Regions from separate parts of the Homo sapiens genome. Here region 1 is linked to region 2. The links come from fine-mapping of genetic effects on gene expression. Tissue or cell type: macrophages. Region 2 holds a variant in brackets; the other region holds the start of a gene. All regions are shown on one strand. Distances are from middle to middle.

The links. PIP is the estimated chance that this variant, and not a neighbour inherited with it, causes the effect. A credible set is the group of variants that fine-mapping cannot tell apart.
Region 1: it holds the start of SOX13, and the variant in region 2 is the best candidate, but not a certain one, in a credible set for the expression of SOX13 in macrophages (Nedelec 2016, PIP 0.83).

Annotation. Positions count from the first base shown.
Region 1 is chr1:204,070,994-204,075,121 of GRCh38, forward strand. SOX13 (SRY-box transcription factor 13) reads left to right here and starts at 2,122. Exons shown (of 14, transcript NM_005686.3): 1 at 2,122-2,718. RefSeq lists an enhancer at 2,801-3,493.
Region 2 is chr1:204,103,691-204,107,946 of GRCh38, forward strand. The region is part of intron 1 of SOX13 (SRY-box transcription factor 13); the gene reads left to right. Among named protein-coding and RNA genes, the nearest start is that of SOX13, 33 kb to the left of the region's middle. RefSeq lists an enhancer at 3,516-4,256. The variant C/T (reference allele first, on the strand shown) is at 2,485.

The DNA of each region.
Region 1 (4,128 bases), 33 kb before region 2:
AGCCACCGCGCCCGGCAATTTGGGTAACCCTTTCATGATTTCTAGGATGGCTTCATCCATAGTTATCCAAACATCAAGCCTTTAATGTTGGCTTCTCCCACTCTCTTACACCCACCTGTTTTCTCCTTTCCATTCCCCCTACTCCCAGCTTAGCTCAGGCCTGCATCATTTTTACCCTGGCCACTGCCATTGTCTGGTCACTGGCCTCCTTCCTACCTCCAGCTAGATTGATGCCATCTGAGACCTTGCTTAGAATCCTTCAGTGGCTCCCCATTTCCTTCCATCAACAAGTATTGATCAATAAGTATTTATGAAGGGCCTGCTCTTTCCCAATCTCTGGCTAGGCACACTGGAGAGATACATCCCTGCCCTTGTGGAGCTTACAGTCCAGGGCGGAGACAGACAAATGAATGGTTACCATATTATTTACAAATGGGGTTTTTCCAGAGCCCACAGATGGGGCACCTGGCCCAGATATGGCCATCAAGAAAGGCTTCAGGGAAAGTTGATGTCTAGGCTGAGACCTAAAAGATGAATAAAAGGAGTTAGCCAGGCAAAGCAGTGGGCAAGGATGAGCCCTTAGAAGGCCTTCAGAGCCTTGCTGACCATCACCTTTGAACACATGCTGGCCACCCACACTGTGGGCATAGACTTATTAGTAGGTCCATGATTGTCACTCCTTTAATCTGCCCTACACCCACAGGTCCTTCCAAGACCCATTTCAGATGCCACCTCCCCCAAGAAGTTCCAGTCCCCATATCCCAGTGTCTTTGGTGGCCCTGTGCCCATTTGCCTGCCCTATCTTAGCCCTCTCCACTTCACTGCAATGGTATATTCACCCATTCCTTTACAAAATCAGAATCCAGAAAGGGCAGGACACCGTCTCATTTGTCTTCGTGTCCCCAGCACCCCGGTAAGCCAGGCATAGGTAGACTTTTTTTTTTTTTTTTTTTTGAGACAGAGTCTTACTCTGTCACCCAGGCTAGAGTGCAGTGGTGCGATCTCCACTCACTGCAACCTCTGCCTCCTGGGTTCAAGCAATTCTTCTGCCTCAGCCTCTTGAGTAGTTGGAATTACAGGCATGCACCACCACACCCGGCTAATTTTTGTATTTTTAGTAGAGAGGGGTTTTCACCATGTTGGCCAGGCTGGTCTCGAACTCCCAACCTCAGGTGATCTGCTGCCTTGGCCTCCCAAAGTGCTGGGATTACAGGCGTGAGCCACTGCGCCCGGTCATATGTAGACATTTGATAAATACGTTGAATGAAAGGAAACCAACTCTCCATTCTCCCCCACCCTCCCATATAATGGGACAGGAGAAAATAAGATTTATTTGAGAGGCTGCAAATGACAGGATTAGGGAGTGGTTGGAGATATCAGGAATCCGTCTAGCTACAGGTGAGATCAGGTTTTGTTTTTTTTGAGACGGAGTCTCGCCCTGTCGCCCAGGCAGGAGTGAGTGCAATGGCGCGATCTCGGCCCACTGCAACCTCCCACTCCCGGGTTCAAGCGATTCTCCTGCCTCAGCCTCCCGAGTAGGGGGTTACAGGCGCGCCACCACGCCCGGCTAATTTTTTGTATTTTTAGTAGAGACGGGGTTTCACCGTGTTAGCCAGGATTGTCTCCATCTCCTGACCTCGTGATCCGCCCCCGTCGGCCTCCCAAAGTGCTGGGATTACAGGCGTGAGCCACCGCGCCCGGCAGAGATCAGGTTCTTAAGGGAAGTCCGGAGAAATGGGGTTTTTAAAAAACCCGAGTCCAGGCTATCTGTTTGGAGGGGTTGGGAGGCTTGGAGCTGGACCAATAACTTCTTAGGTCTTGCTTTAAGGAGTGAAGATTCTCTGTAGCGACCCTCATACCTGGGCAGTGGGAGCGGGCAGAATCCTTCTTTCTTCTCTTCTCTACACCCCCTCACTCCACCCCCACCCTTCCCCGCCGCCCGTAAACCTTAGCTTTCCCCTTTCCAACAGAGGTTTCCAGCTGTTGATGCCTGGATGGACCCGGCTGCAGGGAGGAGGAGGAAACTCTCTGTCCCTCCCTTCTTCTGCAAGTCCCCACCCTCCCTCCCTCCTCCCCCTGCGCGCTCTCGGTCTCCCTCCCTCTTTCTCCTCTAGGCTGTCCAGTCGCCTCGCAGCAGCGAGCCGCGAGCGCCCTTCTCCAGTCCCGGCTTGGAACTGAACTGTGTGAGCACGGGTCCTGGAACCCGGGCCCAGAACCGGCGAGCCCAGGTCTGAGCCCAGAGCTCAGCGGTCAGCCTCGTAGGCCCTGACTCGGAATCGAGCCGAGGCGCTGAGGTTGGAGCCGGAGAGCGTGAGAGCCGAAGAGCAGGGAGGGCGGGCCGGCTGCGCGTCCGACGAGTCGCAGAGCAGGACCGCGGAAGGCAGGGAGACGGCCGCAAGCCCAGGGCAGAGGGCAGAGGGCAGAGAGCGGCCTGGCTCGGCGGAGAGGGCGCCGCCCGGCCGGAACCAAGCTCGCCGCCCGGGACGGCGGGCCCCGTGGGGCGCGGACCCAGGGTGGCCGTGGGTCCGCAGCGACTCCCCGGCCGACGGCGGGGGGCGTGCCCCCTCCCAGCCCAGCCTCCCCAACCCGGCCCGCCCGCCGCGTCGCGGGGGCATGTGAGCGGGAAGCCTAGGCTGCCAGCCGCGAGGACCGCACGGAGGAGGAGCAGGAGCGCGGAGCCGCGAGCCCCGAGCCCCGAGCCCGGCGCCTGGCTGAGTAGTAAGTGCACCCCTCCCCGCCATGATCGCGCCGTCGCGCCCATTTCCCCAGCTCTCTGAAGTTTGACACTTGCGCCCCTACGTTTCTGGGCACCCACCGGCTCTCTTCCCTGCGAGTTTCCACCCTGTGCAAAGTTTTTCGAGGAGAGACGGACCCTCACCTACCCCCAACAACGCTGGGCAGTGGCGGCTCCTCCCTGGCCGACTTGGGTCCTTGTGGAGAGGGATGGCAGCCTCTAAGGCAGTGCGTGGCTGTGTGTGTGTTTGTGTGTGTGTGTGTGTGTGTGTGTACGCGCGCGCGCGCGCGCGTTCACCACGCGGGTCGAGCTTAGGGTGCACCCCCAACCCGCTCCTCGCCGACCGCAGAGGACTAGGTCTTTCTCATCAGCCCGACTATGCGCCTAGTTTAAGGATTTCTCAGCGGGAAGCCGAAGCGACCTGCGCGCGTCCTGCGTGGGGCTCAGGTGCCTGCGACGAGGCGCAGAGCTCCTCCACCATGGTTGCGTGGGGTGCTGGGGGACAGACGCGCTCCCCTTGCCACGGTTTCAGGGTCGTTCCCCAGCGGACCAGACCAGCGCGGCATCCTGTTTGTTTTCTGCTCCGGCTGCTCCTGTCCCACCCCCACCCCCACCGCAGGCTGCTTCTTGCTACCCCCACCTCCCGCCCTGGGATATCGTAGGTGAGCCTTTTCATCCCGATTCCGCTGCAAACGCTGATCGCGCCTAGGGGTAGGGAGATGCGGAGCGGGTAGTCGTTCAGTTCCCAGCGGCTCGCCATTGTTTTCCCACCCCGCGCGTTCCGTACGTAAACACACACGCACACACAAGGTTGTGTGTGTGCGCCGGCTCTGGCTGCTTCCCGTCCCCAGGCGCGCAGGGATCGCCCGCGGGATTCGCTCAGCTGCCCGCATGGGTCTTCAGGCTGGAGGCGCTCCAGGACTTAACTGGAGCTGGAGAGGACAAGAGACGTGGGGGTTGCCGGACAGTACCGGGCGGGGCGGTGAGCCGGGCCTGGGCGGGAAGTGAATTTTGAACTTCAGCCCTGGACCTTTCCGGGAGGACCCCGAGCGCTGGAGCGGCGGCTCCCGCCCTGGAGGGCCCGCGGCAGCTGCAAAGACTCCGCTGGCGCTCTTGGCAGCCGCCTCGGTGACAGAGGCTTGGAGGAAGCCGAAGAGTTTTCCTGGGAAGTTTGCTTTGACTCTCTGGGAATTTCCGGGCAGGACGCCTCGGCGCTGGCGCTGGCGCTGGCGCTGGTGAAGGGGTCTGGCCAAAGACGGCCAGAGACGATGCTGCTGGCTCTTGACCACTAGGCTGTACTTGGCTCTCAGCAGTCCAAGTAGGTGGGTCTCTACCTCCCGGAGTTCATGCCTTCCAAACCAGTATCCCCCAAAGGATCACGACATGCCGGTTTC
Region 2 (4,256 bases):
GCAGGAAGCCAGATGTGCTCACCTGTCCAGGACACAGGCTTGGCCTTGCCATTGGGAAACAAGGATGAGGCCTACCCCTGCCTTCTAGCACTGTTGGGGTGCAGGAGAACCTGGAGACAGGCTTGGGTTCTAGAGGCAGGAAGGCCTCCAGAGAAGGGCCTCCTAGAGACACTGTTGACCTCTTCTCGGTTTGGGACCTTCTGGAGGCACACATCACACTGGGAGCCTCAATGGCGCTTTCAAGCAGTCCCATCTGTCTCTTTCTCGACCCACTCACTGGGTTGGGAGAAGACTCAGGTGCCTCTGAGGCCTGAGGACCAGGTGGGAACATCACAGCTACAGTCTCTCCCTGGCCACTGTTTTCCTTTGTGCCCTTGGGCCAGGGTCAGCTGAGTCCCGGCAGCCACAGAAGCTCAGGCTGGACTGTGATTCTGTACCTGAGGTGCTGTGGGGAAGTGCCTCTTCTCCCATGCTTGGGAGTTGACCCAGCCTCTGTCTGATGTTGGCCACTCTACCAGGTGAATGCCACCCTGACCAGCCTGGAAACAGCCGAGGGAGTGTTGGCTGTGGCCCCCCTGAGCTGGGCTAGACCAGACCGGCCGTGCCCTGGATCTGATACCCCCCAGGGCTCACAGAGGCTGGAAAGGGTGAGAGGGACTCGCAGGAAAGCTTTGTCCCAAGCCTGCAGCCAGTCCAGCTCCCAGCTCTGAGTAAACATTAGAGATAGGATCGGGTGTAGCCAGGAAGGGTGGCAGGGTGTGGTCTGTGAGAAGAATGGCAGGATGTGGCACCGGGGCACTGTTCTGGGCACCCACGCCTTGGCCTATTGTTTAGGGCAGCCTGAGGTTCTCAGCTCTCTGGGGGCTTTCAGAGGAAGTGGCATTCCCCTGGGACTCAAGCCCTGCCCCACCCCTGCTGCATGGATCTCTTTCCCTGGTGATGCCCCTTGGCACCACCCACTCAGAGCAAGCTTGGGAGTGGGAGCCAGCAGTGGAGGGGGATTAGTGTGTGCCCAGCGGGGAAGTGTAGCCATTGGCCCTCTCAGAGGGTCTGCCTGTCTGTTCAGGCTTCCTGTACCCCAGGGTCTGAGTCACCCGTCATGCTACGATGACTGGAATTTATCTCTATCTTTATCTTCATCTAGATATTTTTTGTAGGGTGGGGGAAGGCTGTCGTTGTGGAGGGAGGAAGGACTGACAGTAAAAACTCCTTTGATTCCAATCCAACAGGGTCAGTTGTTGACTGGTTAGAAGAGGAAGTGGCTGGTGATTTGTTTTGGGCAGAAAGGGGCTAGGTTTGTGTGCGCCTGTGGGTTGGTGGGGTTCAGAGGGGCCGTGACAGGGCTGGTTGTGGGGAGGAGAGAGGAAGAGGATCGGCACCTGCAGCGGGCTTTGTCATATAAGCGCCATGCTTTGAGCCACTGTCCCTCCATGGAGGCGGGTGCCTCTCTATACCTTGTCTCAGGTGCTGGATTTGGGGGCCTCGGGGCCTGGTAGGCACAAGCTGAGACTCAAGGCTCTGCATGTCAAGGGCGAAGATGGCTGGAGCCCTCTCCTTAGAGGTCTTCACTTCTTAAGGATGCTCACTTGGGTGAGATAAGACCACAGAGGAAGAAGAATGGAAGAGGGATTGTGAGGTGGGTTCCTGAGAAGGAAGGGAGGGCAGAGCAGAGATGCCGCTTAGCGCCCCAGCTGGCTGAAGGCCTCTGACTCTGTATAATCTCTTTTTTTTTTGAGACAGAGTCTCCCTCAGTCACCCAGGCTGGAGTGCAGCAGTGCAATCTTGGCTCACTGCAACCTCCGCCTCCTGGGTTTGAGCGATTCTCCTGCCTCAGCCTCCTGAGTAGCTGGGATTACAGGTATGCACCACCATGCCTGGCTAATTTTTGTATTTTTAGTGGAGATGGGGTTTTACCATGTTGGCCAGGCTGGTCTTGAACCCCTGACCTCAGGTGATCAACCCGCCTCAGCCTCCCAAAGTGCTGGGATTACAGATATGAGTCCGGCCATTCTATACAGTCTTGAAGCAGTGCTGCCCCAAAAGCTGCGTGAACTCAACATCTCCTGACCTCAGTTTCTCTGTTTATAAAATGTGTTGAGGTTGGGCAAGAGAGGAAACTGGGCACGCAGGAGCACTTCCATCCAAGCGAGGGGCTGACGGGCTACCCTGTGGACTTGTGGCCTCTGACCAGTACCAAGGCATCAGACTAGGGTGGAAACTGAGGGAGCCCAGTAACTCCTGTATCCTGTGGACCCAGCGTTCTTTGGCTTCTGGGCATTTTGGGACAGTGGAGTTTGAGGTTACTGACCTTAAAACCTCCTGCGGAGCCACATGGAAAATGACTGAAGCAAGGAGCATGCTGTGTAACAAAGGAGTAAAGGAACTTGAGGGATTATTTTAGTTTCTGGAAAGTCTAAAGGGAGACTTAAGGGAGGACTCCAACGGGGTCTTTAAATCCAAAAAGTATGGAAAGTGTTTCTTATC[C/T]GACCCAAGGTAAAAAGAAAAGGAAATGGAATCGCTTTGCTGCTGGGGGTATTTAGGTAACTCATAGGAAGAGCTTAGACCCAAGGAAGAGGCAGCAGAGGATAATTGGGTGTGGGAGAAAAACCTGAGAGAGCAGGAGCTGTCTAATAGTCCTAACAGTATCCATCACCTGTTAAGCATCCAGACCTGCTTTGTGCTGTGCTGCTGAACTCTGTCACTCTCTTGTCATTCTAAGAATATTTATCGAGCACTTACTGTGTTTCAGGCACTGTGCTAGGCTCTGGAGCTACAGTGATGAGCAGAAACAGGTATATTTTTGGCTACTGGGTGACTCCAAAATAAATTTTTTTTTTTTTTTTTTGAGAAGGAGTTTTCGCTGTTGTTGCCCAGGCTGGAGTGCAGAGGCGTGATCTCAACTGACTGCAACTTCCACTTCCCAGGTTCAAGCAATTCTCCTGCCTCAGCCTCCCAAGTAGCTGGGATTACACACCTGACTAATTTTGTGTTTTTACTGGAGTCAGGGTTTCACCATGTTGGTCAAGCTGGTCTCAAACTCCTGACCTCAGGCGATCTGCCCACCTTGGCTTCCCAAAGTGCTGGGATTACAGCCGTGAGCCATCGCGCCCAGCGACTCCAAAATAAATTAAGCGTGTAAAGGTATCATTACCAATTGTGATAAATACTTTTAAGGTCAAGTTCAAAGTGCCATGAGAATGTAAAATAGGCACTCTGATAGGGTCTGGTGTTGTTAACAGGAGATTCACCTCTTGATGTTGAGTTTCTTATTCCTATTTTACTGAGGAGGAAATGGGCTCAGAGAAGTTAAGTTACTTGCCCAAGGTTGCACAGCAATGATTGGTCAGAGTTGGGATTCAAATGTACCCAAGTCTGTCTGACCCTAGAGGCTTTTCTCTCAACCACTTGACTCTCAGAGCATCCTGGACTGCGCACAACTTACAGAATAGATATTCACCCTGTATTATCTGATCTTCATGGACACCAGTGAGACATGGGTTATTGTACCCATTGTATGGATGAGGAGACAGGCTAAGGGAGGTTAATTAATTTGACTAGGTTCATACAAGTCAGCCTGTGGCAGGGCAGGAATTTAAACCCAGGTTGTTGGATTCAAACCCTGCGGGTCTTCCAAGTTGTCCCCTGACTCCCTCCAGGACCCTTGTTTTATAGACACAGCTTGCAGGGGTGAAGCAAACTGTGCAGACCCCCAGCTGCAGAGTGACAGAGCAGTGACCACATAATGACCCCTCTCTTTCCATCTCACTGCCTTTCCTCCCTTATCTAGTTGATCATGGGACCGTCGCTCCCCTCCCTGGGATGGTTAGGGTCTGGAGCCTGGTACTGATGCTCTTCACAGAGACACCTGCGTCTCTCTGGGCCATGGCAGGCTGGGGCTTGGTTCCCTCAAGACCAGACAGGGCAGGGAAAGCAGCTGCTCTTCTCAAGCAGGCCTGTGCTTGGGGAGGGGGAGAGGGAGGTAAAAGAGGTACCCAGGGACCCTCTCCCCCAAAGGTGAGACCCAGAGTTGCTCTCCATTGGGGGCGGGGTGGCATTGTGCCTGGGCTGTTGCCTTTTCATGGACAAGTGGGCCCAGAGGATACCAACTAAGGGCCAGTGCCCAGCACCTGCCGTTGAGCCAGACACCTGTGAGGATGGAAGGGCCCTTGTCTGGGCAGGGTTATCTGGTGGGCACCCAGCCCTAGTGAACAGACTGACACCTCTAAGCTGGCTTGGCTGGTCACCAGGAGCCATTG